Homo sapiens: one gene and its partners. The protein of the gene in region 1 interacts with the protein of each later gene in a pairwise test. Each region holds a gene or a part of one and is shown in the gene's direction. Other genes may lie near its edges. The genes, in order: TOP3B, CENPF, FBLN5 and AXIN2.

Region 1 (8,110 bases):
CAGCTTTCTGGTCAAGATTACTGATTTCACTGTAGTCCTGTGATCTCTTAAGTGGGGAACAAGGTTGACAGCCCAAGGCCGACCTTGGACCTCTTCCCCTGCACAGCATGATGAGCAGCAGAAGCCCCTTTAGTGAGGGAGTTCCTTTGGCATCCTTTCTGAACAATGCCCTTTACAACCCTCCTTTATTTTTCTGGTTTTATTGTAAAGTCCCTTGTCTTAGTTCTTGTCCCTCAGTCACCTGTGTCCAGGCGCTAAATGTAAAAGGTGCAAAAGGGAATGTGGTGAGGAGGCACCCCCAGCCCTGACCTCCAGGCCCTAACACCCACTCCAGGTGATTGCTTGGACTGTTTGTTTTGCGTTCCATCCAGACATATCGCCTCTTCATAATCAAGTGCACACGTGTGCACACATATGTGTGATCACAGATGGCAGTGCTCTCTACACACCGTTACATGCCCAGCTTTCTTAGCATGATTTATTTCAGTGATCTGATCCACGTTAGTATGTACCAAGCAGATGCTTTCCTTTGTAATGCTGCCAGGTGCTCTACTGTAGAGAATGCCATGCTTTTTTTTTTTTTTTTTTTTTTTGGAGATGGAGTCTCACTCTGTCGCCCAGGCTGGAGTGCAGTGGCGCAATCTCGGCTCACTGCAAGCTCCGCTTCCCGGGTTCACACCATTCTCCTGCCTCAGCCTCCCGAGTAGCTGGGACTACAGGCGCCTGCCACCATGCCCAGCTAATTTTTAGTATTTTTAGTAGAGACGGGGTTTCACCACGTTAGTCAGGATGGTCTTGATCTCCTGACCTCGTGATCTGCCCACCTTGGCCTCCCAAAGTGCTGGGATTACAGGCGTGAGCCACCGCGCCCGGCCAGAGAATGCCATGCTTTTATTTAACCACCTCCCTGTTGACAGACACCAGCTTGTTTCTAACCTTTTATCATGATTGATAATGCTGCAGAGAACTCCCCAGTGATGTGGTTCATCACAGGCACCACCGTGCCCAGCCTGAGGCCACTCCAGCGCTGCCCTGTCCTACCTCCTGGGGACTCAGAGTCCACATGGACAGTCTTGTCAGGGCCCACCACTGACTCCTGTGAGTCTCCCCAGGTGACTTCACTCTCTACCTGTCTCACAGCCCTTGCCCTCCCTGGGTCAGCATGCCACCACCCAGGCCCCTCTGTAATTCCTGTTTGAGCCTCCCACCCTCTGGGAGTTGCTTCTTTGACTCCCACTTCCTGCTCTTGTGCCTCACTTCCTGGACCCCACAGAGCACACCCTCTGTGGACCCTCCCCAACCCTCACCTCCCTCTTCACCCAACTCAGAGTCAGGTTCTGTCCTTGTAATCTCTCCCCTCGAACCCTGACCCACTCCCTCTCCCTCCTACTCACCTGGACTCTCCCATCTAACTAAATCCAGTGCTTCCTCTGCTGTGGGCCTGCCCGCAGCATCACCACCTGTCCTCCCTCAGTGGACAGCCGTACCATGCCTCCTCCTCCACCAAGAGAAGTGCAGCCTTGTGGCAGCTCTGCATCGCCTGGATGCTGACCGGCTGCCTCTCTTGCCCCTCACCCTCCCAAGGCCATCACTGCAGCAGTTCCTTCCCCTCCGGCACGCAGCTTCTCTTTTCCTTCTCGCCAGAGCAGTCCCATCAGCGGAGAACATGCTGGCACAGCCACCATCCTGAAACAAGAGGGGACAGTGCACCAGCCTTCTCCCATCTCCCAGGTTTTGTTGAGCTCACCCCATGCAGCTTTCATCTGTCACTCACCACATGGCCCCATCAGGATTACCCAGGGCTCTGTTTGCCAGACCCTACAGTCAGGTCTCAGCTGCCATCTCGCCTGGCCTGTCAGTGTCCCCCACATGGTGATAACTGCCCTGAAGTGCTCTTTCCTGTGGCTTTCAGGACCTTACCCCTCCTGACTCACCCTGCTAGCTCCTCATCTCCCGACCCCCAGCCTGGGCTCCTTCCACATTGCTGCCACCTCCTCCAGGCCACCCAGGCTGTCCAATGGGCAGGTCCCGTTTAACACACCTGAAGTCCCACATCAGACTGCCAGTCCCTTCCTGTCATGCCTAAGCCAAAGCCATGGGTTGTTCCTTTTGCTTTTTTGTAAAGATGAGGTCTCATTGTGTTAATCAGGCTCTTCTCAAACTCCTGGCCTCAAGTGGTCCTCTTGCCTTCGCCTCCCAAAGCACTAGGATTATAGGTGTGAGCCCATGGCAGGTGTGAGCCCATGCCCAGCTCTGCCTCAGGTCATTCTTGACTCACCTTCCCCTCCCCCTCCCATGTCCCGCCATCCCAGGTCTGCCTGGATTCTGACTTCCCTCGCATCCTCCACCACTGCTACCCAGGGCCCATTCATCCTCTTCTATGTGGCAGCCAGAGAGGTCCCTTTAACACTTGAAGTCAGATTATCCCACACCTATGCAAACCCTCTGCTGCCTCCCAGCACCCCTAGAGCAGACCCACATTCTACACCCCTGCTCCCTCCCTCAGCCCCATGAGCCCCCCTGCCCAGCCATATCCTCCCCAAGGACCTCACCTTCCCTGCTCCTTCTGCCTGGACTCTTCTCCCAGGTGTCACCCAGCCCTGCCCTGTCCCTCCCCTGCTCCCATACTACAGCATGAGTTCTGGGAGGGCAGGACCTGGTGTTGCTTTGTGCTGTATTCCCTGCATCCTGGACTAGGCCAAGCATGCAGTAGGTACTCAATAAATAACTGGACTATTAAGTTCATTCCAAGGAGTGGAATTGCTGGGATGTGCACTCGGACTTTGAGAGGGATCCCTGAATTGCTGCACATAGAGGTTGTTCCCATTTAACTTCCCCATGCCCTCATCTGCTGTGTGTGCAACGACTTTGAGTCTCTCCCTATGTGATAAGCACAAGCTCATTGTAGTTCTGAGTTTCTTCTGCGAGTGTTGTTGGACATGATGTGATACCACAAAGGTACTTACGTGGTGGTTTTCCCTTTTTTTTTTTTTTTTTTTTTTGTTTGAGATGGAGTCTCACTCTGTTGTACAAGCTGGAGTGCAATAGCATGATCTCGGCTCACTGCAACCTCCACTTCCTGAGTTCGAGCGATTCTCATGCCTCAGCCTCCCAAGCAGCTGGGATTATAGGCACCCACCACCACACCCAGCTAATTTTTGTATTTTTATTAGAGATGGGGTTTTGCCATGTTGGCCAGGCTGGTCTTGAACTCCTGACCTCAAGTGGTCCACCCACCTCAGCCTCCCAAAGTGCTGGGATACAGGCGTGAGCCACTGTGCCCATCTAGGTGGTAGTTTTTCTTTATGCTGAGATTATTTTATTTTGCTTTTACTTTTTTTGAGACAGGGTCTTGCTGTCACCTAGGCTGGAGTGAAGTGGCTGTTCTATCCACAGGTGCAGTCATGGCACACAACAGCCTTGAATTCCTGGCCTCAAGCAAGCGATCCTCTTGCCTCAGCCTCCTGAGTGGCTGACACTATAGGCATGTGCTACCACACCTGGCTTGTGAGATTTATTTTAAAAGCACATGTTTTTCCTAATATTTTCTGGTTTCATTGTTTCTACTCAAACCTTTGCTAGATCTGGAATCGGTTTTAGTGGGATTTAGGAAGCAGGAGTCTAACTTTATTTTTTTTCACAGCAGATTTCCCAGTTGTCTCAATACGAGTCTTTTTTTTCTTTTTTAATACGGTGCTATGTTTATAAACATCAGTGCTACATTTATAATGACTGAAAAAACAAAAAGGGTTCATGTGGTTTTCTTTTACTTGGCTAGCAGGTATTGAATGTCATGTGTCAGGCACAGAAAGCTGTTGCAAAGACCAACAGTGATTCAGACACAAAGCCCATCGTGTCCTATTTTGGGGGTGAAGTAGTCGCTGATGATGGCATGATGTGAGTGGGTTGGAATGGAGACCTAGCCCAAGAGCTGTGGGCACAGGAGGGCTGACTTACCCTGCCAGTGGTGTTGGGAGACTTGAGCTGGGCCTGTGGGCCATCCAGCTGCATCCTCCAGGCCTGGCGGAGCTTTCTCTCAGGCAGGGAAGCGCAGGCACAGAGGCTTCAAGTGCGTGTTTGCTTCGATGATGATATTTGATTTAATTTGGCCAGAGCATGACCTGCAAAGCAAAAGGTGGAGTGGAATAGGTGGGAGATAGATGTGACAGAGTCCTGATGTCTGCTTGGGGCTGGACCGACTAGCCAGAGGGTCTCAGGCCCATCATGGATCAGAAGGACCTGGGGGGCCCAGCCTGGGCATCTGCATTTTGTAAAGTGTCCTGGGGCGTCCAAGTGCTTTGCTGAGCGGGAGGTGCTGCTCTCGGCCACGATAGTTCCTCTTTCCAGGTGAGTCCACCTGTAGGTGGAAGAGCCAGTCCAGAGAGGAGGGCCAGGCATCCACCTGGCCTGACCCATCACTCCAGATCCCCAGGCCCCAGCATCTTCCTAGCATGGATTTAGGAATAAAATTGACCTGAGATCACTGGGGCCACTTCACCTTCCCCCAAATGGAGCCACATTCCCAGGATCATCTCAGCCACTTCAGCTGACCTGGTAGTTTTTTCTTGTTTTTAATCTCAGATGTCTTCAAGTTTCCCTAATTCCCTAATTTTTCTTCTTCTTGCCTCAGGTTGGTCTTGTTTTTTCTTTGTTAAAGTGATTTTCCTTGTAGTGGTGTAGGTTCTATTGACAGCATTGCTATCCTGAGTGTCTTTTCTTCTCTTTAGGAGTCAGCATTGGTAATAGTGCTGTGCTGCGGAAGAGTGGAGTCTAAACTTTTTCATTGCCAGTGCCCCGAAACTGGAGTGTGAAGGACCGAGACAAAATGAAGACTGTGCTCATGGTTGCTGAAAAGCCGTCCTTGGCACAGTCAATTGCCAAAATCCTCTCTAGAGGTAGGAGAGACCAGCCCTGCTTTGGTCTGTAAGCACGGTCGTTTATGTGTTACAGGACATTTTTTCCTAATGTGATTCCACCCTGGCTGGGGTAGATTTGGTTCGGGTCGGCAGGTGGTAATGAAGCATCTCAGTATGTCACAGTGGGGTGCATTTGCTTCCACTCCTGGCAATGTGCCAAAGCTGGGGTTCCCATAAGGCACAAGGCACAATTTACAATGAAATTGAAGGACAGTCATTATCCATATGCTGGGCCTGGTGGGGCTATTAGGTACAGGTAGTAGAAACCAGCCCTGGAAGGAAGGAGACGCAGCCAGGACTACACCCCAGTCAAGGTCTGATGAGGCTATGCCCCAGGCATTGTCACCCCTGGATACTCCCACTGTCCTGTGGACCTCACGTCACTCCAGAGTAGCCAATGGACTGAGCTATGGCCACAGGCACTACTGAGACACCAGGGAGCTCGAGAGGGAATGTCTGCCACTCACCCCCAACTCTGGCCACTGGGGTGGTTGGTAGGGTGCTGTTTCCCCCTATCTTTGAATTCCCTCCAAATAGGAAGAGTTTTAGATGCTGGGTACCCAGAAATGACAGGCACCTACCTGGCCTCCCCTTGGTCCAGCAGTTGAGAGGGGAAGAGACCCTCGTTCAGCTGAGAAGGCATGGTCCGCAGGGGACGGTGCCCCAAAAGTGGTGCCCGGTGCCCAGAAGCTGAGAAAGTACAGCTGAGTATGGTCAGTGGAGAGGGTGAGAATTCGATAATTAGAAGGTCCCTGGTAACCGAGAGTAGATCTGGAGTCTGTTTTAGTAAACGATGAATAACGTTTCAATGAAGTGAGGCAAAAATGGAATTGAAGAGTGAAAACATAAATACAGAGAAAGAGCCCACCCCTGCCTGCTCCTGGCTCCCGGCAGCCTGGGGCTCTGCATCGAGAGTGCTCTGTGCTAGGTTGTTGGCAGATGCTGTTTTCCCTGAGCGCCGTCCCACCTCTCAGTGCCCAACTACCCGCACCAGTCTGCGGAATGTCGTCACTCACCACTCTGGGGAAGGAGGACTCTGGCCCTCTGGGAGGTGGCATCCGGGCTGGGGTCTCCACAGGGTCTTCAGCTCAGCTGAAGCAGCCAGTCACTTTGTGCTTCCTCATCCCCAGGGAGCCTGTCCTCACACAAAGGGCTGAACGGGGCCTGCTCAGTCCACGAGTACACTGGGACCTTTGCTGGCCAGCCAGTGCGCTTCAAGATGACGTCTGTCTGTGGTCACGTGATGACCCTGGATTTCCTGGGTAAGCCCCTCTACCCTCCATCCTACTGAAGGGAGTTCTGCATGGCACTGGCCAGGGTCCAGTTGAAGCCAGGAGATGCCTCTAGGCAGGGAAGTTTGTCCCAACTCCATGAGTCATAAGGCCAGCAGATCATGAAGTAGCAATGAGAGGGTCCCTGGTGCGGTGCCCAGAACCCAGGCTCTGGAACTCAGCCCTGGGTCCCCATCATAGCGGCACCCCTTAGTCGCTGCATTCCCTGTGTGCCTTCCTATGTAGACAAAGTGGCAGCACCTATCTTAGGAAGGGCTTGACCTGTGCAGGCATTTAAGAGAAGGCTGCTGCTGTTGCCAAGTTGACCGTCATCTGTCGGTCATTTGGTGGCTGTCGTTGTCATTCCTATATTGTTACTGTTATCAATTACCTTGGAAGCGCCAGTATTAGTGACCTGCTGGGTGTAGGTTTGGGGCCATGTGGTTGGCAAGAGTCTGATCCAGGCTTTTCCCCCTGCTCTGCCGGCTCACTGGCTGGGGATGTGGGCAATGACGGCCTCTGAGTTTACACTTCTCATAGTGAAATGGGTCTCACAGCAATGCCATCTGCTTCCCAAGGCTAAGGATTCAGTGTGACAGTGAGGGCAAAGCACTCAGCACAGGGCCCGACACACAGCAAAGCCTCAGCCCTTGTTCTTGCTGCTCATTGATGACAGTGATGACAATGATGGTGACTGAGTTGTGTGGCTGAGCATTTGGACCCCAAGTTTTATCTCCAACTGGCAGGTGGGGAGCCGGGATTTGAATTTGGCTCTGTCTGACCCCATTCTCCCAGGATGCAAGAAATGGGGCCTGGGGAGGATCGCTTGAGCCCAGGAGTTCAAGACTAGTCTGGACAACATAGTGAGACCCCTGTCTCTACAAAAAAAAAAAAAAACAAAATTCTTTTTAAATCAGCTGGCATGGTGGTGCGCACCTGTAGTCTTGGGAGGCTGAGGTGGGAAGATGGACTGAGGCTGGGAGGTCGAGACTGCAGTTAGCCGTGATCGTATCACTGTACTTCATCCTGGGTGATAGAGCGAGACCCCTGTCTCAGAAAAAAAAAGAAATGGGGCCTAAAAGAAAGCCAGACAGCTGAGCATGCAAGAACCGGGTCTCTGTAGATGAGTAGGTGAATGTGCTGGGCATGAGGCTCAAAAAGATGGTCCTTTAACAGGAACGACTGCACACATGTGTGCCCCCACAGAGTGCTGGGTGGAAGGACAAAGTTCCAGAAACTCAGGTTGGAAGTGTCAATGAAGGCACCATTGTGGGGTCCAGTGCTCAGGCAAAGAGACCCAGCCCAGGAATGGTGCTCCCAGCCACAGGGAAAGTCCCGGAAGTGAGGCCAGAGTGGCAGCCCCCCGAGAGCTTGCTTGGCTCCTGTGGTTGGCCGGGGTGTGGTGGGTCCGCTCAGCAGCCGAGCAGAAAGGAGGCTGGATGGGAGGGGGTTACCAAAGGCCTGAACCCACATCCTGGCTCTGCCTCTGATCATCAGGATGACCCTGGGCAAATTGTTCTCCAAGCTTTCCCCTCCTCATTTGTGGGATGAGGCCAACATCCTCCTGGGGTTATGATGGTCTCGGAGGCTGAGCTCCTGTGACTCAATGTCACTGTGACTGGTTTGTAGGAAAATACAACAAATGGGACAAAGTGGACCCCGCAGAACTGTTCAGCCAAGCTCCCACGGAGAAGAAAGAAGCTAACCCCAAGCTGAACATGGTGAAGTTCCTGCAGGTGCGTGGGGCTGGCCTGGGCATGAGCACACCGGGGCTCCCCACCCTCCACAGCTGCCATGTCTTTGCCCACCCTTGCTTGAGTCCTAATCCCCCTTGGACAGGGGGGCCTTTGCTAGCTTTTTCTGTGAGTGCCCCCTGCTGGCCCACGAGGCACCTGCAGGCACCCCCAACACACAAGGCAGTTG
Region 2 (8,110 bases), on another chromosome or scaffold:
GCCTTTTGGCCAGTGGGGACCAACCAACAGATGCTTCTGCTAACATTTCCACAGGCAGACTGGCATCGAACTCTTCCCTCTGTGAGCTTCCCTTTCAGCCAGGAACTCTCCCGCGACTCCACTGGCTGCCTGGTGGAAACATTTTGTAAAAGCAATCATCTGGTTAAGAGAGTCCAAACACTTTAAAAACTGCTTGCTTGGCCAAGTCGCAGTAGTGGGCTGGACATTGTCTTGCAGGTGTTTCTGAAGACTTGTTCATCCCCACGAGGTCTGGTCCGTGAGCTGTAGCGCTGTCCTCAGTTAATCCCAGCCTGTACTGAGGTGCATGCATCACATTTCACTGGTATATCATTGATGTCTGTGTCAAATGAGGGCATCTGTGTGAAAGTGTCTAGCACCGGGCCTGGGGATGAAGTTAATATTTGTCTTAATTTATGGTTATGTTTATGTATGTGTCATCTTTTGAGGGTGATAGCAAGATTTCAAAGAGTTTGGCTGGCTCTTGTGTTTTGCATTGGGATTGGGACCAGATAACTGATGAACCCAGTTAGAGTGGTGGTGTAACTTAGTGGGAAAATGGTAGTGGCTTTAGAGTGAGTGAGATCTGAGATTGTGTTGCTTTTCTGCCACCTACCACAATGTGACCTTTAGACAGTGGCTTACCCTTTCTCAGTCTGACTTTCCTCATCTGCATATAGGGACAAATCATTCTCCTGCCTTTTCAAGGCTGTATTCTTGGTTAAGTTAAATATTGTATGTAAAGTGCTTAGCCCAGTGCCCAGCACATAAGTGCTCAGTCAGTTATTGCAGTCCAACACCTGCCCATTGCCTTGGTCTTCATCACTGCCATGACCTTTTGATGTTAGCATTGTTTGCTGTCACCTACAGGCACAGAAAGTGTGATCAGGGGACAGTGCACTTGAGATTTCTCATATTTATAATTTTGCCTGTTCTATTACTGTGTCACTCTGGGTATCTTTCTGTGTCTAATTATATGTAAGCACTAACAAATTTAGGACGCTTATAGGTTTTGGATGCCGAAATAATGTGACAGTTGTACTGAAATTTTCCTTGTCTGTGTTTAGTAAACATGCTGCTCACAATGAGAAATTATCAGTACTGGAAATGTGATTTAATGGCCCAATCAAGGGTAAAGTTAACATTTAGTATCAAAGTGAATGGAGGGTTTAGATAAGCTGCTCGTCCACTATCCAGTGCCAGCCCCATAGCATTGGGGTTAGGCAATAAAATACCATCGTTTGACAGTCAAGATGAGGGAACACTTGCCTGGGGACCTTTCCAAGCATAGGGATCTGTATTACACTAGGTCCTCTAAGGAGCTGGCTCTGGCAAGCAAGAGAGATGAGGAGGAAAGGGAAAAACACATTCTTTGCATCCATCCCTTATCCAAGTATATAGGCTTCGCCCAGCAGGGGACGTATTAAGCTATATTCATGGATGGGATCATGAAATGCCACACAGTAGCTGAAATTTGTTTTGTCTGGCCCTAGGAAATGATGCCTCCCTTGCTGCTCCTAAAGCGAAGTTGATCTGGGTGGAATTGCTTGCTAAGCTCTAATGCTGGCTTGTGGTTATAGGGATTTTTGTTGTGCTTTTCCAGCATAGTACCCAATTTTGCAAATCATGTGAGGATGCAGGAGATGCCTAGGAAAATGTATCTTTGTATGCTTAACTCATTGTTGATAATGAGATACCCAATCAAGTCTTAAGTGGCTGTAGCCTCGTGGAAAACTAATTGCTGATGGATGGCAGCTTGCACATCCATTTTCAGATGTTCATTTTCTAAATTCTGGCCTTTTAAAATTCTTGGGTTGGTCATAGCCATAGCATTATAAGCCTGCTGGGTCCCAGGATTGGCTGAACATTTCTTCGTTAGACACAAATATTTACGGAGCTAATGCCAGAATAGAGAAAGTCATGTTAATCTTTCCATTGAGCTTACTATTCATTTAAATGTCTCCAGTTATGGACAGACATGGATCGAGACCAACAAACACATAAACATAAAATTCCCCATCTTTCCCTGGTGCCCTCTCTCTCTTCTTTTTTCCTTCCTTCCTATTGGGACGCACCTAGTTTTGCACAGTGTCTTTCCAGCTTTCTTGTCAAGCCTCCAGATGCAGGTGTCATTTGATTTGATTAAAAAATTTTTTTTTTAGAGTAAGAAAATATTTTTTCATTTGCAAAATAAAAATGCTAAGTCGACCCAGGTAATTACATTCTAGTTCCTCTTCTATGTTGACCTCATTCAGCTGATCTTAGCATTGATTACAGAGATCTGGCTACTGTTAAATTTTGGGAGGAAATACTACTAATAATGCTACATTGCCCCTGTCAAAGTGCTTTAAGATGTTTGTCCTTTCACATCTGTGATCTCATTTGAGGGGTGATTATTCTGAGTCTGAAGAACAAACCAGTCATTATACGTTCCATAATTTAATGATGCTAATTTAAATCAATAACATTGTTGCACCTTAATGATCGTGCTTTGCAAAGTTTAACACTGACTAGTGTGAATGTTAGCCTATCAATCTTGAGATCGGTTGGAGCTGCCCTTTAGTTCTGATTGATATCTTAATTCGATAGAGTGTCAGTTTAGCAGCAGGGAAGCAGGATCAGGACACGGTAGATGGGAGTATAATAACTACAACAGGTTCTGTCTTATTTTAATGATGAAATGAACGCATATACATGAACGGAGCAGCTGCCAGCAAGTTTTCAAGTACTTTCTACTAGCCAGATTCTCCCTCTTCTTGAATTTGGCTTTGCTACATCGGTACCCATCTGCTGGTAGTAACCAGACTGATAATTGAAGGCAGCCTTCCAACACAGTATTGCCACGGCCATCTGTTTTCTAACAGTGCAGTAGGGTTTTGGAGGATGGGTCTTAATTGTTTCTTTAAGATTCAGAATTTTTCCTCTACTTCACAAAGGGGTAATTTTGGTAGGTTTGAAATGCAGTTTAGAAAAAAGTTAGCTTTATATGATTTTTCCCCGCTTGAGGATGTGAGGTGCTTGGTTCTCTTAGCTTGTAATGATTTATGCCAATTCCCTGTGGTCCAAAGGGTGGCATACAGTATAGGTTGAGATACTTGTTTGTTATGTGAGTCTTATGTGGTTAATAAGCAAAAAAGTTTTTCTTTGGCATGTAAATATTGCTTGCTTTTAAGATTCAGAACATATAGGCCTCCCTAGTAGTAGAATGGAACTACACATGTACCTGTGTTACTTTATTGCATGCTGTTGCGTGGATGTCTCTTCAATCAGATGCCCAAAGAACCTGTTTTCACTGTGAAAGCTCAGAAGCTAGAATTAATTCTTCCTCTGTGTTCCAGCCCTCTGATTTCCCATAGCACACTCAATGTCTCTTTAGTATTTAGCATATCCTATTGTGTATTAAATGATTAGTATCACATCTTCCCCCACTGGAGGATGTCTGCCCCAAGGGCAGAGACTCTGTCTTATTTATATTTGCATTTTTTGTAATGCACATTCCAGCATCTTGAATATTGTTGGTTTTCTTGATAAGCATTTATTGAAGGTAATTTTTCCCACAGAATCATTCCTGTAACAGCAAACCTTAAGATGGTTTTGCAATGAAAAGTAAACATATGTGCTGAGATTTTTTTTTTTTTTTGGTTTATTAACAAATCAAATGTTTGCAAAGGTATATTTGGCCATTCAGGTGTGATAGGAACTTGGAGGTTTTGTCTTGAGGATCTTGTAGATAGGATTTTCCTTTTGAGCTTACTCTTTAATAGGCGTATGAACAATGAGAAAGTTCAATGAAACTTCTTGAAAGAAAAAATTATCTTCAGATTTGGGTTTGATGCTGTTGTCTTCTGTTCATAACATTATTTAAGTAAGAATGTCTGACTTCATTAGGTACTCAAACGGGGAAATTGTGATTCTTTCCCTAGTGAGATACACAAACAGTTCTGCTAGGGACCTTTATTAAGGCAGAAGTCATAACTTACTTGAGCATTCGTTTTGGCTATAACCAATTAAAATGTGTGTTTTAGGAAATGAAGAAGGAAAACAACCTCCTTAAGAGTCACTCTGAGCAAAAGGCCAGAGAAGTCTGCCACCTGGAGGCAGAACTCAAGAACATCAAACAGTGTTTAAATCAGAGCCAGAATTTTGCAGAAGAAATGAAAGGTAAGTAAACTTAGTATTTTAGAGTTACCTTTCTAAGCTGCTATTCCCGTGAGAGGGGATGGATGGCATTAACATATTAGAGAAACTCTTTGGATTTTTTTTCATATATTCCCTCAAAAAGATGTGCGCAGTTGATGTGGAAGAGTTTTCCCTCTTCTAGTTTTTAGTTTCCAGAGTGAGAGTGGGACTTTTTTTAATTGGAACATATTGAGTCCCAAACGCCTGATGCTCAGCACTTTGAAATCAGAAGGGTAAATATTTTCCACACAAAGCTAAATTGTCAGTGCTGTCTCTCACCCCCGAGTGCTATTCTCTGTGTCTCTAGTGTGCTTGTTAGTTACATCCAGACAGCTCATCTCCTGACTCATTACCATTTCCCTTATAATGGAAAAACCCTATATTAAATGCATGTTTTCCAAGCTCCTAATGACCATTGTTTTTTGATGACTTACTTGACTGAATGATTTTATTTTCTTATTTTAAAGCCAAAGAATTCTGCTCTACACATCAAATGAATCCACTCTTGGTTTCATATTTGTATGTTTGTGCCGGATGTCTTCTACATACCCTTTATTTTCTCACCTGGGGTGTTTGCATATCTAGAATTTCTTTGAACTCTGTCCTGTGGAATGTGTGTCACACTTCTCTGTGACTATTTTTTTAAAACCCCAATCTTGGTGTGGTGGCGGGTGCCTGTAGTCCCAGCTACTCTGGAGGCTGAGGCAGGAGAATGGCATGAACCCAGGAGGCGGAGATTGCGCCACTGCACTCCAGCCAGGGCGACAGAGCGAGACTCCATCTCAAAAAAATAAAACAAAACAAAAACCCAATCTTCCCAAGACAGCTTTTAGTTTTTCCACAGCAGCAGATAGAAATGTCAGTTTTCAGCTTTCTTGAAGGGAAACTGTAAGAAAAGGAACAGTTGGGGCATTTTTCAGTGTTGATCACCCAGGTGATTGTTTGAGTTGCTCACAGCAAAGTGGGATGAAGCCCTTGTGGTGCTGTCTACATAAGCCCTTAACTATAAGTAGGTAGATTGAGATTGACAGCTTAGAAGTTCGTACTGCTTTCCACTTGATATGATGTCTGAGATTGTAATACATGTTACCTTTATCATCTACTGTGGAGGTTCTCAACTTTCAATCTCCCCCAACATACTTGAGCAACATGAAGCCTTCTTATCACTGTTTAATGAAAACATCGTGGTTATTCCCAACCAGGAGGGGCCAGTATGTATAGATGAGTCATTAGGCAGAAGACAGGGGGTAACGGAGTTTGAAGAAGCTTCCAAATGACTGTGACATTCATAGACACTGCCACCCTTACTATGAGGGGCTGGGATGGGGGTGATAATGTTCCTCAGGAATATTCACATATAGGCCTTGAGAATTACTGATATATGGCATCATTTACTCTTTTCTACTTAAGTCTAATCCTGTGGATGTTTTAGCTAAAATGGTGGAGTACTTATTTACTTTTCTGAGACATCAGAATTACTCTACAATAAAGTGGGATGTTCCCATTTCAGTGCTGTTCTTGTCCCAGTTTTCTCTCTTGGAATAAATATTTGAAAAGATGGTAAAAATATACACATATGTAAACACATACAAAGAAAAGAAACAGTGCTTAGGAAAATCATCCCTTGGTATTTTATTCAATAACATGTTCTTAAGCTGCTAGAAAGAAGATGAACAAATGTGTTACTCTCCTTAAGATAACCATTTTTCTCATTTTTATATAAGATAATTACCAAGTGATCCACTTTCTAGGAGGTACCCAGGCAATAATGCCAGTTTTTCCAGGGCTTGAGTAGTTGTTAGTTTGTTTGGATTTTGCCAGGGGGCGGGGGGAGGGGTTAGCGTTTCTGTAGAATAAACATTTATTACAAACATTGACGACTTTTATTTATTTTTAAATAGCGAAGAATACCTCTCAGGAAACCATGTTAAGAGATCTTCAAGAAAAAATAAATCAGCAAGAAAACTCCTTGACTTTAGAAAAACTGAAGCTTGCTGTGGCTGATCTGGAAAAGCAGCGAGATTGTTCTCAAGACCTTTTGAAGAAAAGAGAACATCACATTGAACAACTTAATGATAAGTTAAGCAAGACAGAGAAAGAGTCCAAAGCCTTGCTGAGTGCTTTAGAGTTAAAAAAGAAAGAATATGAAGAATTGAAAGAAGAGAAAACTCTGTTTTCTTGTTGGAAAAGTGAAAACGAAAAACTTTTAACTCAGATGGAATCAGAAAAGGAAAACTTGCAGAGTAAAATTAATCACTTGGAAACTTGTCTGAAGACACAGCAAATAAAAAGTCATGAATACAACGAGAGAGTAAGAACGCTGGAGATGGACAGAGAAAACCTAAGTGTCGAGATCAGAAACCTTCACAACGTGTTAGACAGTAAGTCAGTGGAGGTAGAGACCCAGAAACTAGCTTATATGGAGCTACAGCAGAAAGCTGAGTTCTCAGATCAGAAACATCAGAAGGAAATAGAAAATATGTGTTTGAAGACTTCTCAGCTTACTGGGCAAGTTGAAGATCTAGAACACAAGCTTCAGTTACTGTCAAATGAAATAATGGACAAAGACCGGTGTTACCAAGACTTGCATGCCGAATATGAGAGCCTCAGGGATCTGCTAAAATCCAAAGATGCTTCTCTGGTGACAAATGAAGATCATCAGAGAAGTCTTTTGGCTTTTGATCAGCAGCCTGCCATGCATCATTCCTTTGCAAATATAATTGGAGAACAAGGAAGCATGCCTTCAGAGAGGAGTGAATGTCGTTTAGAAGCAGACCAAAGTCCGAAAAATTCTGCCATCCTACAAAATAGAGTTGATTCACTTGAATTTTCATTAGAGTCTCAAAAACAGATGAACTCAGACCTGCAAAAGCAGTGTGAAGAGTTGGTGCAAATCAAAGGAGAAATAGAAGAAAATCTCATGAAAGCAGAACAGATGCATCAAAGTTTTGTGGCTGAAACAAGTCAGCGCATTAGTAAGTTACAGGAAGACACTTCTGCTCACCAGAATGTTGTTGCTGAAACCTTAAGTGCCCTTGAGAACAAGGAAAAAGAGCTGCAACTTTTAAATGATAAGGTAGAAACTGAGCAGGCAGAGATTCAAGAATTAAAAAAGAGCAACCATCTACTTGAAGACTCTCTAAAGGAGCTACAACTTTTATCCGAAACCCTAAGCTTGGAGAAGAAAGAAATGAGTTCCATCATTTCTCTAAATAAAAGGGAAATTGAAGAGCTGACCCAAGAGAATGGGACTCTTAAGGAAATTAATGCATCCTTAAATCAAGAGAAGATGAACTTAATCCAGAAAAGTGAGAGTTTTGCAAACTATATAGATGAAAGGGAGAAAAGCATTTCAGAGTTATCTGATCAGTACAAGCAAGAAAAACTTATTTTACTACAAAGATGTGAAGAAACCGGAAATGCATATGAGGATCTTAGTCAAAAATACAAAGCAGCACAGGAAAAGAATTCTAAATTAGAATGCTTGCTAAATGAATGCACTAGTCTTTGTGAAAATAGGAAAAATGAGTTGGAACAGCTAAAGGAAGCATTTGCAAAGGAACACCAAGAATTCTTAACAAAATTAGCATTTGCTGAAGAAAGAAATCAGAATCTGATGCTAGAGTTGGAGACAGTGCAGCAAGCTCTGAGATCTGAGATGACAGATAACCAAAACAATTCTAAGAGCGAGGCTGGTGGTTTAAAGCAAGAAATCATGACTTTAAAGGAAGAACAAAACAAAATGCAAAAGGAAGTTAATGACTTATTACAAGAGAATGAACAGCTGATGAAGGTAATGAAGACTAAACATGAATGTCAAAATCTAGAATCAGAACCAATTAGGAACTCTGTGAAAGAAAGAGAGAGTGAGAGAAATCAATGTAATTTTAAACCTCAGATGGATCTTGAAGTT
Region 3 (6,894 bases), on another chromosome or scaffold:
CCACTGTGAAGTTTCTCCCTGTCTCCTAGTTCAGAGCAGGCAAGGGGTGTGGTTGGCCTCTGCCCTGTCCTCTTGTCACCCTCCCGGTAATGGTAGTGCTGGCCCTGGCTCCTCCAGGGCTGGCAGGGGAGGAGCAGGTGGTAGAAAGGGTAAGGCTGGAAGAGTGAGGCTCCTCCCCGATTGTAGCCATTGTAACCAGGCATTGGTATTCCCTCAGGAGCAGAGCCCCCAAAGCTGTTGCTCTCACAGGGTGCTTTTGTGGGTCTTTTGGAGATTTGCCTGAGGACTTCACACTGACCAGTCCCTGATATGGGCAGTAGGGCCTGTGGTTGGTCACCTGCTACTCCAAACCTCTCAGCCCCTAATTCTGGGGCTATGTCTCATACAGATGTGCCGTGGTGGTAGTGAGGTGGAGGGTATCACTGCATCCTGGCAGCAGACCTTACACAAGGGCCTTTCAGGATGTCAACATCAGCTCCTTGCATTCCCCGTTCCTCTCTATGGTGTGGGGCAGCTCAGGGCTCACATCTCCAGACTTCTCCTGGAGACAGTCTGGTACCACTTTCTGCATCCTTGAACTTCAGGGGCCTGCATCTCTAAACAGTTTTTCTTTTTTTGAAAACCCCTCTTGATTGAGATGGAGGCTAGTAAGTGTGTTTAATAAAATATATGTAGAGTTGGGCACAGGGGCTCATGCCTGTAATCCCAGCTACTCTGGAGGCTGAAGTGGGAGGATCCCTGGAGCCCGGGAGTTCAAGTCCAGCCTGGGCAACATAGTGAGACCCTGTCTCTACAAAAAAAGATTAAAAAATTAGCCAGGTGTGGTGGCATGACCTGTAACCACAGCCACTCTGGAGGCTGAGATGAGAAGATAACTTGAATCCAGGAGTTCAAGGCTGCAGTGAGCTATGATTGCACCACTGCACTCCAGCCTGGGTGGCAGAGCGAGACCCTGTCTCTAAAAACAAAAACAAACAAACAAAAAAGTATGTATGTAGGCTGGAGGGGGTGATGGAATGAGGGAAACATCTGGCTTTGGATCACAGCTTTGTAAGTCCTGTATAACCCCAATAACTCCACACACAGCATCAGCAGCAAGCCGTGTATAGTGCCTGTATGTGCCAGACACTATTCTAAGTGCTTTCTATACAGTAACCCTTTAATCTTCACAAGAATCCTATGATATAGGATGGTTTTATCGTCCAGATTTTACAGATGAGAGCACTGAGGCACAGAGCTAAGCAACCTGCCCGACTAGTCTCACAACTAATAAGCACCAGGGCAGGATTTGAACCTAAGCAGCCTGGCACCAAAAATCTGTGCTGTTATACTTTTCTTCAGAATGGGGAGGTATGCTTTACCTACTCTTCCAGCTTTGGGGTCTCAGATGAAATGGAGATCACAAGAAAAGTCTAACATCCAGTTACAATAGAAAGTATTCCAGAAATAGCAGTTATGATTGTATAGATACTGTTGTGGCCACTGCTACTGTTGCTGCTACTGCTGCAAGGAGGCTGGGAGCTGCTGGGCCATGGAGAGCTTGGGAATGCTACCCAGGGGACTGGAGCATCGTGTGGGAGGTGGGGCTGGATGGCCATCCAGGCTCTCACACCCTGAGATTCATTGATTTGATTATAACCACATGGGAGGAGCTTCATCTCACCCCGCAGGCAAACCACACACACACACTTGCATGCACACATGCACACACTTATGCCCACATGCGTACGTGTACACACACACACAAGCCCATTCATAAGCCTTATTGGCTGCCTGTCTCTCACTGAGCCCTAGAAAGAGGACTGATGATTGGCTTTGGCCAGGTGGCTTGGGGGTCATAATTAGGGCCAGAAGAAGGAGCAAGGTCATGGGGTTCAGACTGTGCCAAAGTGCACTTACTCCATGACACACGTGGATCAAGTGACAGGGCCCATGGAAGCTGGCCTGCTACAGCGTGGCTGCTTGCCACAGGTCAGACCATGCCATCCCACAAGTTGATTAGAATAAACCTGAGTGTGTTTGGGATCAGGGCCAAGAAGACACACAGCTGGTGGGCTGTTGGCAGCCGACTCCCAGCGTGGTCAAGTCCACTGGCGTTCAGTCATTCGTGTGCATTCTTCCGTTACCAGCGTGCATTCAGCACCACTGCATATGAGGCTTCAAGTCAGGCACTGAGCGTTGAGAAACAAACAGGATGTGGTCTCTGCCCTGGAGGAACCCACACACACCTTAGCGGAGAGGGGGAAAACAACCTAGCAAACACAACACAAAGTGGCGATTCTCAAGTCAAGTCAAGACCCATGGGATGGTGAGTAAATGGAGAGGTACAGAGACCTTATCAGAGAGTGTAGTGGTTAGAAGCATGATTTTTGGAGCCATAAAGTCTAGTACCATGCAGTAGTTTGGTGGCCTTATGTAGTATCCCTAACCTACTTAGAGCATAGGGTTGTGAAGATTAATTAAGAGGTGTAGGAAAGGTTGTAGCCAGATGCCTGGCATCATAACCACCACCGTCATCACTGTCGCCACCATCCTCCTCCTCCTCATCTTTTCGCACCACCAAGCCTACTAATGCCCACGGGCTCTCAGGGGTTTATTTCATTAATGCCCTGGCTCTGCCCTAAAAGCCGAATGTGGAGGTGGCTGTCCTCAGCTCTTGTGGCAGGTACTTGAGCTCTTCCAGGTGCTTGTGGGTAGGGTGGACCCAGGTGGAGGCCGGACTCACCAGCTTCTGCAGTTACTTCCAAATGGGAGAGTCTAGGATTTCAAATGGGATAGTTGAGGATTCTTTCGTACTCAGGAGACATTTACCAGGAGAGCCCAAAGGAACAACTTGGAAGTTTGCACTTGCCCCCTTCTCCCTTCCAGACCTTGGGCTCTGCAGATCTCCCTCTGGAGGGCTGTCCCTAGCTCAGGGTTCTCAACTCTTGGTCTTTGTTCACGCAGTGAAAGCTGGTGAGATATTTGTATATGTAAAGGCTGCAGGCATTTCCTTGTGTGGCTTTACCCTCTGAAGCCCTGGCCCAGGGCTCAGGTTTCGTAAGGGCTGACAAGGAAGTCCAAGAAATCTGCGTGAGGAGGTGCCAATAACGTGGATGCTGACGGGAACAGGAGGAACCAGTGCCAAGAGGAAATTGTGTGGCTGTCAGGCTGCCGATAGCCTCATGGATAGGGGAGGTCCCAGCGCCTGGCCTGCACCTGTCTGCCAGCCCCACCCTTGTCTTACTTGTGGTGGCTCTTGGGGATGTTCAGAACTTTATGGGGCGCCCTCCTTTTATGGAGACAGATAAAACATCTAGTGTAGCTTTAAACCAGCTAGGTTCCTTTATTTTGCAGAGACTGTTGCTTGCAGCTTCTGGGCACAGGGCTGGGCTCTGCAGTGTATGGGAAGTGATTGTCCAGCCCATCCCTTTTCTTCTTCACACTGTTTCCTCTAACAGTGCCAATATCTGTCCCTTGCACTGACCGCGAGCATCTCTCATTAGGTGGGTGCTAGGAAGAAGTGAAACACACATCAGCCTCTTCTGATACCTGCTGTGCAGTGAAAAAAGCCTGGGGCTTGGGGTCAGAAATACCTGAATGGAAGCCCTTGGTTCTGCCCAAGACTAGCTGGGTAACCCTAAGCAATTATTTAACCTCATGGGACCTCAGTTTGCTTACTTATAAAACGGGGAAGTAATGAGTCATACCTTTCATACAGCACTTAGACAAGGACAGCCAGGGCCCCCCCACCTGGGTCCTGTGCTTTTAGATCAATATTTCTCAATACTTAATGTGCACACAAAGCCCTGGGGATTGTGTTAAGCCACAGATTCTGGCTCAGTAGATCCTAGCCCTGAGATTCTGCATTTATAAGAAGCTCCCTGGTGATGCCCATGCTGCTGGTCCAGGGACCACACTTTGAGTGGCAAGGCCTTTCAGGGTTTTATGAGAATTTTTTTTTTTTTTTTTAGCTGGAGTCTCGCCGTTGTCCAGGGTGGAGTATAGTGGTGCGATCTCTATTCACTGCAACCTCTGCCCCCCAGGTTCAAGCAATTCTTGTGCCTCAGCCTCCCAAGTAGCTGGGATTACAGGCACCTGCCAACATGCCCTGCTAATTTTTCTAGTTTTAGTAGAGATGGGGTTTCACCATATCAGCCAGGCTGGTCTCCAACTCCTGGCCTCAAGTGATCCGCCCACCTCGGCCTCCCAAATGCTGGGATTACAGTTGTGAGCCATGGTGCCTGGCCATTTTATGAGGATTAAATAAGCAGATGTACATAAACATGGTTAGAAGAGTGCCTCACACATGATGGGTGCTCAGTTGATGTCATTCCTCTCTGCCTTCCTCCTTGAAAGTTTTAGAAAAAGACTCAGTGGAGGAGAGAGTTCACGCGAAATTATTAGGACCACAGTGATCAGGTTACAGAATGGTGAAGCTGGAGATGACTCTAGGGTGCCTAGAGGGGGGTTCTTAAATTCCACCTTTCCCAGGCATCACCTAAAAATATACTGACATAGAAAATCTTGGAATGGGCCCCTGGAATTGTTAGTTTAACAAAAAAAGTTCCAGTAGCCTTTGATGCCTTTTTTTTTTTTTTTTTAAATTACTGATCTGGTCCAAACCCTCATTTTATTTTTCCTCAAAAACGTTTTTTAAAACTTTTATTCCACTTTCAAGAGTACATGTGCATGTTGGTTGTATAGATAAATTACTGTGTCGTAGGAGTTTGGTGTATATATGATGTCATCACCCAGGTAATAAGCATAGTACCCAGTAGGTAGTTTTTCAATCCCCTCCCTCCTCCTGCCTCCCACCCTGAAGCAGGCCCTGGTGCCTGTTTTTCCCTTCTTTGTGTCCATGTGTATGTACTCAATGCCAAACCCTCATTTGAGAGATGAGCCCCAGAGGGGTGAAGTGACAGCCCTAAGCCATGCAGAAGTTTCAATCAATGATTCGTTCATCATTCAATATATGTTTTCTGAACACCTTCTGTGTTCAAGGCACCATGCTGGCTTCTAGGGGGACTCAGTGGTGAAAAGCCTGACCCCAGTACCTGTTCTTACAGAACTCATAGCCTAGTGGGAGCCTAGATATCAGACACGGATCAGGTAGACAGTATGGACAATCATACATGGTCATAAATGCTTTCCATCCTGTACAAAGTAAAGGCTGCAGCGTCAGAGGTCGCAGGGGGACCTGACTTAGATTGGGGAACCAGAGAAGGCTCCTCTTAGGAAGTGACCTTTCAGATGAGACCTGAAGGGTTTGCAGAAAAGAACCAGGTGGAGAGTGGGCAAAGCCAGGGAAAGAGCATGGCACAGTTGAGGCACCGAGGGGGTGCCAGTTTGACTGACGGAGGCAAGGGAGCGCCCAGGTGGGGCTGCAGGGCCACCATGCAGGCCTTTTCTCACTGGTGTTCCCCGGTTCTGTCCATAGCAAACGGGCCCCATCAGTGCCACCCTGGTGATGACACGCCCCATCAAAGGGCCCCGGGAAATCCAGCTGGACTTGGAAATGATCACTGTCAACACTGTCATCAACTTCAGAGGCAGCTCCGTGATCCGACTGCGGATATATGTGTCGCAGTACCCATTCTGAGCCTCGGGCTGGAGCCTCCGACGCTGCCTCTCATTGGCACCAAGGGACAGGAGAAGAGAGGAAATAACAGAGAGAATGAGAGCGACACAGACGTTAGGCATTTCCTGCTGAACGTTTCCCCGAAGAGTCAGCCCCGACTTCCTGACTCTCACCTGTACTATTGCAGACCTGTCACCCTGCAGGACTTGCCACCCCCAGTTCCTATGACACAGTTATCAAAAAGTATTATCATTGCTCCCCTGATAGAAGATTGTTGGTGAATTTTCAAGGCCTTCAGTTTATTTCCACTATTTTCAAAGAAAATAGATTAGGTTTGCGGGGGTCTGAGTCTATGTTCAAAGACTGTGAACAGCTTGCTGTCACTTCTTCACCTCTTCCACTCCTTCTCTCACTGTGTTACTGCTTTGCAAAGACCCGGGAGCTGGCGGGGAACCCTGGGAGTAGCTAGTTTGCTTTTTGCGTACACAGAGAAGGCTATGTAAACAAACCACAGCAGGATCGAAGGGTTTTTAGAGAATGTGTTTCAAAACCATGCCTGGTATTTTCAACCATAAAAGAAGTTTCAGTTGTCCTTAAATTTGTATAACGGTTTAATTCTGTCTTGTTCATTTTGAGTATTTTTAAAAAATATGTCGTAGAATTCCTTCGAAAGGCCTTCAGACACATGCTATGTTCTGTCTTCCCAAACCCAGTCTCCTCTCCATTTTAGCCCAGTGTTTTCTTTGAGGACCCCTTAATCTTGCTTTCTTTAGAATTTTTACCCAATTGGATTGGAATGCAGAGGTCTCCAAACTGATTAAATATTTGAAGAGAGCTTGTGTTTGGTTCATTTTGACATCATAGACGAGTCAGCCTTTGGGGTTCTAGTTCTGTTTAAACCTGTTTATTGTGCGCTGGCTTAGAAAGCTCTCCAGAGAGCTAGGGCATTATCTGTGACTCTGGCAAATTGATGGGAGGGGGGCGGTGGGGCAGAGAAATAGGGGTCGTGGGGAAGTTAGGGGGAGGCATCATCCCTGAGTCCTGTTTCATCTGATTAGAAAACAACCAACAATCCTTCTCTTACGTAGATTATTTCCGGTGCTCCTGCAGAACAGGAATGTATTCAAGTTACTTTAAACCAGTGGCCTTCAACCCTGGCTGCATAGACGGATAACCAGTAGAACTTTGGAGGAAAGATTGATTCCCCGGGACATGCCCCCAGACACTCTGATGTCATTGGGCTTAGGTAGGGCCCGGCCATCAGGATTTTTGAAAACTTGACTATGTAGCCAGAGTTGAGAATGTATTGTTATAAACCCTAGAAAGAGAGGTGG
Region 4 (8,110 bases), on another chromosome or scaffold:
CCGCTCCCGCTCCCCGGACCACCACCACCACCACCATTCGCAGTACCACTCCCTGCTCCCGCCCGGTGGCAAGCTGCCTCCCGCGGCCGCCTCGCCGGGCGCCTGCCCCCTCCTCGGGGGCAAAGGCTTTGTGACCAAGCAGACGACGAAGCATGTCCACCACCACTACATCCACCACCATGCCGTCCCCAAGACCAAGGAGGAGATCGAGGCGGAGGCCACGCAGCGGGTGCACTGCTTCTGCCCTGGGGGCAGCGAGTATTACTGCTACTCGAAATGCAAAAGCCACTCCAAGGCTCCGGAAACCATGCCCAGCGAGCAGTTTGGGTAAGTGCCGGGCGGACCGCAGTGTCCCGTGTGGGGCTTGTCTCCCAGCCAGGTCCATGGGCAGGTGTGAGGTGGGAGCCGCATTACAGGCATTTAGTTTCTAAGAGGGCGGCAGAGTGCACGGCCGGGTGAGGGTGCGGGGAGCAGGTGCATGGGTCTTTCGTGTCACCAGCCCCCCGACTTGCTGAATTGTCTGATTCTAGGAGTCCCGGAGATTTAACCGGGTCTCTGGGTTGGGTGTGGTTCTTGGTTCCCCACAGCGGCAGCAGAGGCAGTACCTTGCCCAAACGCAATGGGAAAGGCACGGAGCCGGGCCTGGCCCTGCCCGCCAGGGAAGGAGGGGCCCCCGGCGGAGCTGGGGCCCTGCAGCTTCCCCGGGAGGAAGGAGACAGGTCGCAGGATGTCTGGCAGTGGATGCTGGAGAGTGAGCGGCAGAGCAAGCCCAAGCCCCATAGGTAAACACCGCTTGCCGCCGCCGCGGCCGCGAGGGTCATGGGCACTCAGTACGGAGGTATTGTGGGAATGGCTGTTTTTGCAGTCCGCGGAATACAAATGTGACTATTTGCTCCTGCCATCTTAATATTAAACGTTGGACTGAGCAGACCACAAAAATGTCATGTTTTGGCACTGACCCCTGTTCATGTTATGGTAGTTTTTTTTTTAACTCTCTCTCTGAGCAGAATAGACAAGTTTCTATTGAAGTCACATTTTCCAGTTCTTCTAACCCAGTTTCTTTCCTTCTGTTTTCTCTCTGCTCATTCCTTGTTTAGTGCCCAAAGCACAAAAAAGGCCTACCCCTTGGAGTCTGCCCGCTCGTCTCCAGGCGAACGAGCCAGCCGGCACCATCTGTGGGGGGGCAACAGCGGGCACCCCCGCACCACCCCCCGTGCCCACCTGTTCACCCAGGACCCTGCGATGCCTCCCCTGACCCCACCCAACACGCTGGCTCAGCTGGAGGAGGCCTGTCGCAGGCTAGCTGAGGTGTCGAAGCCCCCAAAGCAGCGGTGAGTGGAAGTGAAGGGTCCTAGGTTGAGGCAGGGATTGGGTTTGGGTGGAGACCTGGTCTGTGGCTAATGGGGAGGGCCTCTCTTTCTGCCTGGGTCTCAAACCCTCCCATGAGAAGAAGAATTACTTATGGATGAGTAAGCTGCTGCTTTCCAGCTTCTAGAAATTGTTCCCTTCAGTTATGTTCATTCTACTAGAGTTAAGCCAGGATCTGTGAGGCAAGTCATGCCTAGAATTGGGAGAATGAATTTCAGCAATTGCTTACAAATCCCATTCCTTACAAATGTCTTGATTGTTTAAGGCTGGTTAGTTGAGTATATAAGAAGCTGTGAGATGGAGGATCAAGAGTCCTCAGCCCTTTGCTGGGGCTGAGAATGTCCCATCCTGGGCTCCCAGGGGGGCTTAGAATGGCTGTTCCAAGACGTCTTCCTGGCCTCTTCAGCCACTGTTAACCCAGGGTCTTGGTTGGGTCTCCGTAAGGATGGAAGTCGGGTTCGTGTCTCTTCAGGAGGCCAAATAGTAATTTTCTGTCTGCTTTTCAATTGCTCTGGGGACAACAGTGTACCTCTAAATCCCTCGCCCTGGCTGTGTCCTCAGGTGCTGTGTGGCCAGTCAGCAGAGGGACAGGAATCATTCGGCCACTGTTCAGACGGGAGCCACACCCTTCTCCAATCCAAGCCTGGCTCCAGAAGAGTGAGTGTCTTTACCTGACATTACTGAGATCTGCCGAGTGCTTTATGTTTCAGAATATTCGCTATCTGGAGTTTCATTTTCATGAAACTTTTTTTGGTTTTTAAAATCACTTTGATTTTAGCGCTAGTGATGAGGAACAGTAAACGTAGATGTTGCCATCCATGTCCTGCCGACAAATGCATCATAGCAAAAGTTTTTCTGGTCATACACAAATCAAAAGCTGGGACATGAAGCCATTAGCAGAAGTGTAGAAGGGACCTCAAATTCAGCTGGAAAAGTTGCCCCCATTCAACTTGCAATTTAGTAGTACTGGAAACATTTGTCACCCCTGAGCAGAAAGATCATTCTCCACTGTGGCAGAGGTGGAGGGGACCATCCTTGTGTTTTTGTTTGGAGAAGACAGAATATCTTCCCCCAAATTGGGCAGTGATTCTTTTTGTAAATTTAGTCTCTTTCAAAGTAGGTTGAGGAGCCTGCTCGTTTAATTACTGGATGGTGCAATTAAAAAGAAATCTGCTAAAGAGATCTAAAATGGTCTGTATCAAGTTTTCTTTCTTAGTGTCTTCATCCTGAGCAATGAGCAATGTTTGAAGTCCTCAATAGGCCACTGCCCTGGACCCTTTCATTGTTTCAATTGGTTGACCCTAAGTGTACCAGCTCTCTGGGTCTGGGCCAGCCACTTTTTTTTTTCTTTTTGAGACAGAGTCTCGCCCTGTTGCCCAGGCTGGAGTGCAGTGGCTTAATCTTGGCCCACTGCAGCCTCCGCCTCCTGGGTTCAGGCAGTTCTCCTGCCTCAGCCTCCCGAGTAGCTGGGATTGCAGGCGCCCACCACCACACCCAGCTCCTTTTTTGTATTGTTAGTAGAGACAGGGTTTCGCCATGTTGGCCAAGCTGGTCTCAAACTCCTGACCTCAAGTGATCCGCCCACCTCGGCCTCCCAAAGTGCTGGGATTACAGGCGTGAGCCACCACGCCCGGCCTAGCAGCCTTTTTTTCAAGCCATTCTACAAAATCTCAGAAGAAATGGGGAAATGGACATGACTGTGTGATAACCCCCATTAGTTGTTCTCATTCTGCTGGAATAAGGGGTGGGCTTTAGGCATTCTGAGATCATGCCATCCCAAAGGTGTCCTGCTCTGGGTTTGTCTCTTTAGCACTCTCCAATCCAGGTGAGACCCGGCATCTCTGTGATAATTTCTCTTCTCTCATCTTCTTGAGGAAGCACCCCATTTATGCCAGCCTGAAAGAGGCCGCCGTATACTTTCATTTGGTGGCGGTGGGGGAAATGATACCAATTTGTACAACCAAAAGGAAATCATCCTTTTCTGCATGCTGCATGCAGCACATGTGGGGTTGGACTGTGTGTCCCCCAGAGCTGCCTGACTCTGGGATGTGGGGCTCTGCCCCAGCCCCCACTTTGGGTTTACAATTGCAGCCCTAGTGTTTGGATACCCTGTCACTTATGCACATGTGCGCACGTGTGTGTTTGCTTTAGATGTGTGTCTGCTTTAAAATGCTAAACTTGTTCCATTCCATCTTATTTTCAGTCACAAAGAGCCAAAGAAACTGGCAGGTGTCCACGCGCTCCAGGCCAGTGAGTTGGTTGTCACTTACTTTTTCTGTGGGGAAGAAATTCCATACCGGAGGATGCTGAAGGCTCAGAGCTTGACCCTGGGCCACTTTAAAGAGCAGCTCAGCAAAAAGGGAAATTATAGGTAAGAGTCCTGTGGCTTTTTTCTGCTCTCAGTTTGTTTGCTCAGAACCAAGAGCCAGAGCCTGGAGCAGCTCCCCTGGCTGAGCAGACCTAGGTGGGGCAGGGTGGGAGGGGGCTCAGCAGGCGCTGGGGGAGGCTCCCTTCTCATTTCTTCTCTCCCCTCACCGCTAGCAGCAATAACGAAGCAGCAGCCGCAAGAGGGAGGCTGCGTGGAGGGTTCTCTGGGGGACCTGGCCAGGCTCTTTCCACCAGGTGAACCAGACTGAGGAGAGAAAAGGAGCAGCTGCTTGCACCGACAGGAGAGTGGGGCTCAGGCCACACTGCAGAGGCTTTACCTGCAATTGAGGGGCTTGTGGGCGAGTGGGGAGCAGGGAGCAAAAAGAGGGACAGGCACACTGATTAGGAGGGAGGGTCTGGAAGCGCCGCCCTACTGGCTTGAGTTTAGGAGAGACCCCCACATTGAAGGCTCCAAATAGTCAGGAACCATGCCTAGGAAAAGTCCCCCGTGTTTTTCTTACCCTGCCTTTCCACCTGAACAGCCTCCCTGGATTTTATGGGCCATTAGAAGCAGAGATGCGCCTTTGTCCATAACAAAGAAGGGGCTGGACCTGCGGGTGGGCACAGGGTGAATAGGGCAGTCTACTCCTCCTGTCCAGGCCTGGGCCCCGCTGCCTTCTCCCCTGCAGGGGCTTCAGGAAGGGAACTTCCTGGTCTCCTTACCTTGTCTGCAGAGTGGACGGAGGTGCCCTTGAGAAGGTCCATGCTGACTTTTTAGGGCCCTTGAGAGGGTTCAAGAGCTGAGGAGGATGAGGGCCAGCCCTAGGCCATTCCTTCTCTTGATCATTTCCCTCGTAAGGAGCAGGTGATGACTCTGCCTCAGTTCATCTGGAGTCCTCCCTTGCCCCTCTCCATGGCCTGCAGCCCAAGAGAATGTGTGGATTCTGCTCCAGTTCTGTCCCAGGTTTCCCAGGTTTAGGGCTCCAGGCTGGGACAAGGGTGAGACAGGGGCACCCTAGTTTAAGGAGGTGCTCACTCTGGGGTCTACACCCAAGACAGAGTTCCAACTCCTCAGCTGTGTGCTGTTGTCCCTGTGCCAGGACCACAGTCTATTCCCAGGTGTGAACCCGTTGCCGCCACCAGGGCCAGGGGTGTGAGTGGAAAACTCTGAATAGCACTTGGTAACCTGCCAGGTGGGCATGGGCTCCTGGACGGGGATGAGTCCACCTGCAGGGCTCTGAGACACCCTCCCCTCTAGAGCAGGCCTTGTATAGTTTTACCAGCCACCTTCATCTGGGAGTTAGTTTGGGCGGGGGCTCAAAGTGATTCTCTTTGGAGTGGGGAGGGGATGGAGGTTGGACTGAGCCCCTGGAGGTAACTGGCCAGCAGGGCGTGTTGCTGGGTCTGGATAGTCCCTTTTATACCTGGGCAGAGACAATTGTGAAAAGGTATCAAAGGGGTGGGGGAACAGGCCTGGCTGCTGCTGCTGCTGCTTTTATCTTGAAAAGACACAAGGTGAAACTAATGACACAAGTGTGTCCCTCTGGGGATTCATTTTGATCTTGGCTTTGTCTCGGCTGGACTTCGAGTGGAACTGCAGGTGACCTTGGAGAAGAGCCATGTGGCGCTGGCATAGGCTTGTGGGGAAAGTGCCTCCTTCAGCTGCTGTGGCCACATCTGGCTCTGATTTTTTTTTTTTCTCCCTGAGGCACAGTTAATAAGCCTGGCTTTGAAGCCCTGGCCTCCCCTTTAATGCACAAAGACTTGCACAAATGGTCAACTCTCCGATCCTCTCCAGTTCTTTCCTGAGTGGATCAGGCTGTGGGAAGGCCCTCCCAGCTGCCTTATCTCTGCAGGGCCTGAGCTAGACTCAGTGTCCTCCTGGGGTAGGACAGGGACACAGGGTGTCACGCCTCACCCTCCCAGCAGGGCTGGTGCTTCAACATCTCAATTTGTACAAATACATCCCCCCTTCAAAAAAATAAAAAAGACCCAGTGAGGTTGGGGCCGTGGAGCAGGGGTGGGAGGTGGGGGGGACCTGGGATGCGTTGAGTAATCTCAACATGGCAGGGGTTCAAAAAGCAAACAGTCCCTTCAGACGCGCCAGACGCTGTTGGTGCCAGATGTCAGAAGAAAGCAAAGTTTGCCACATGAAGCATGTTGCAGTGGAAAAGCCTGTTTCTTGGAGAAAATGAGGGCAGTGCAGTGTGTTTGAAGTCCTGGGGGTGGGGCTGAGAGAATGTGGCCTCTCTCCTCTCTGGAGGAGGTTGCAATTATGTAAAAGGTCGCTGCGTGTTTGCTCAGACATGCTGTGAAAGCCCAACTTGGTAAACCCTGGAGGGGTCGGAGCTGGGGCCAAAGGGGTCTGACGGAGGGTGGCGTTGGGATTTGAGCCTCTTATGTGGAGAAGTGACTTTTCCCCCCACTGTCCTGAGTCTCCTGTGCACAGAGCCCCTCCCCATTTTCTCACTGTCTCCTCTCACGCTCCCCCGAGAATTTTGACCCCTTGACATGACGTGTCTTCAGTGCTGCCTAGTCAGAGCCATGCCGTTGTTCACCCCACTGCATTAGCTGGGTCAGGAATGCTAAAAACAAAGAACCTTGACTAAACCCAGCTGTTCACTGTATTTAGCCTTATCTCCTACGAAAGTATTTGGCTTGCCTTTATTAAAGAGGGAAAAAATTGAGCTCTAACCAAGGGGAGTTAATTTTTTTTTTTTTAAAGGGAAAAGACAAAGCCCAACCATAACCCTGAGACACAATTAAATGCTTGAAAGGTTCTCCCATCCCCCCAGGGGACTGTGACCTTCCCTCTGTGAGTGGCCTTTATGGGCTGGAAATGACAGCTTGCAGGGGCAAGTTTAATCCCTCTGAGGGGTCTCCCTTGGCTGGGGACAGGGAAGGAAGAGGCCCTTGCTTAATTTCCTCGGAAGGGGTTTAGGGGTGGGCCTGGCCCAAGAGGACAGCAGTTGTTTCCGAATGTGGCACTCCTGAGAGGCCAGGCATTTGCATCTGTACAATTAAACAGCCTCAGAAGAAAGAACGCTGGGGAGGGATGAAAGGAGCCTTTAATCAACGGGCATAATAGAAGGGCCTTTGGTGTTTGACCCTGGAGGGATGGGATGGGAGAAGAGGCCTGGAAATGGGGAGAAGAGGGGAGGGCATCATGGGGCCAGTGCCGTCTGTTCGGCCCTGGGAAGCTGCGCTGGGCTGGCTTGCCTCCTGTGTGGCTGTGCCAGGGCCATCCAGGAGTGTTGCACTTGGGACCTGGAGGATGGGAAGGCCGAGAGGCCTTTGGACTGCTAAACCATCTGGAAGTCAGCCTTTTACAGACTTCGGCAGGTTCCGGCTCTCCAGGTGTGATGGGTTCAGGATGGCTGAACCTGGAGATAGTCTGGAGTCTCTTTGAAGGACCTGCTTGGCTCCTGCTGCAAAGGAACTGCAGGCATTTGTCCTTCCCTTCCCTCCCCCACCCCACTGCTGAAAAAGGTTGGCGGGGGGAAAGCAGCTCTGCTTTTCACAGTGTATACGTGTCAGGAGACAGCAGAGGTGCTGGGTTGAAGATTGCAGGTGGCAGGCCCAGCCCAGGCTGCTGCTCAGTGGGTGCCTGGCCTTCATCATCTCGGCCCACCTGCTTCTTGTGGTGTGGCCAGTCCCAGCTGCCGTCTTAAAGCAGATGTGCGCAACAGTGTACAGGCACACCTGCCATAGCAAATTCCTAGGATACCTCAGTCCTCCATGTTGGTATGCTTTTCTTTTCAACAATGTGGAAAATGCAGTTTACCAAGAAGCTTTTTTGGTTTTCCTTTTAAGGTATTACTTCAAAAAAGCAAGCGATGAGTTTGCCTGTGGAGCGGTGTTTGAGGAGATCTGGGAGGATGAGACGGTGCTCCCGATGTATGAAGGCCGGATTCTGGGCAAAGTGGAGCGGATCGATTGAGCCCTGGGGTCTGGCTTTGGTGAACTGTTGGAGCCCGAAGCTCTTGTGAACTGTCTTGGCTGTGAGCAACTGCGACAAAACATTTTGAAGGAAAATTAAACCAATGAAGAAGACAAAGTCTAAGGAAGAATCGGCCAGTGGGCCTTCGGGAGGGCGGGGGGAGGTTGATTTTCATGATTCATGAGCTGGGTACTGACTGAGATAAGAAAAGCCTGAACTATTTATTAAAAACATGACCACTCTTGGCTATTGAAGATGCTGCCTGTATTTGAGAGACTGCCATACATAATATATGACTTCCTAGGGATCTGAAATCCATAAACTAAGAGAAACTGTGTATAGCTTACCTGAACAGGAATCCTTACTGATATTTATAGAACAGTTGATTTCCCCCATCCCCAGTTTATGGATATGCTGCTTTAAACTTGGAAGGGG

The links.
Region 2: the proteins of TOP3B (region 1) and CENPF interact in a two-hybrid assay, tested with the Homo sapiens proteins (one study listed by BioGRID).
Region 3: the proteins of TOP3B (region 1) and FBLN5 interact in a two-hybrid assay, tested with the Homo sapiens proteins (one study listed by BioGRID).
Region 4: the proteins of TOP3B (region 1) and AXIN2 interact in binary tests that used the Homo sapiens proteins (3 or more experiments, as listed by UniProt).

Annotation. Positions count from the first base shown.
Region 1 is NC_000022.11:21,972,425-21,980,534, reverse strand, and holds part of TOP3B (DNA topoisomerase 3-beta-1), read left to right. Parts: intron 1-4,347; exon of another isoform or gene 4,348-4,554; intron 4,555-4,727; 5' UTR 4,728-4,825; coding exon 4,826-4,895; intron 4,896-6,046; coding exon 6,047-6,178; intron 6,179-7,816; coding exon 7,817-7,923; intron 7,924-8,110. UniProt on the Homo sapiens protein: Releases the supercoiling and torsional tension of DNA introduced during the DNA replication and transcription by transiently cleaving and rejoining one strand of the DNA duplex.
Region 2 is NC_000001.11:214,633,823-214,641,932, forward strand, and holds part of CENPF (centromere protein F), read left to right. Parts: intron 1-4,043; coding exon 4,044-4,179; intron 4,180-6,098; coding exon 6,099-8,110. UniProt on the Homo sapiens protein: Required for kinetochore function and chromosome segregation in mitosis. Required for kinetochore localization of dynein, LIS1, NDE1 and NDEL1.
Region 3 is NC_000014.9:91,868,911-91,875,804, reverse strand, and holds the end of FBLN5 (fibulin-5 isoform 1 precursor), read left to right. Parts: intron 1-2,129; coding exon of another isoform or gene 2,130-2,308; intron 2,309-5,419; coding exon 5,420-5,581; 3' UTR 5,582-6,394; downstream 6,395-6,894. UniProt on the Homo sapiens protein: Essential for elastic fiber formation, is involved in the assembly of continuous elastin (ELN) polymer and promotes the interaction of microfibrils and ELN. Stabilizes and organizes elastic fibers in the skin, lung and vasculature.
Region 4 is NC_000017.11:65,529,541-65,537,650, reverse strand, and holds part of AXIN2 (axin-2), read left to right. Parts: coding exon 1-327; intron 328-587; coding exon 588-782; intron 783-1,097; coding exon 1,098-1,331; intron 1,332-1,929; coding exon 1,930-2,025; intron 2,026-3,571; coding exon 3,572-3,739; intron 3,740-7,548; coding exon 7,549-7,675; 3' UTR 7,676-8,110. UniProt on the Homo sapiens protein: Inhibitor of the Wnt signaling pathway. Down-regulates beta-catenin. Probably facilitate the phosphorylation of beta-catenin and APC by GSK3B.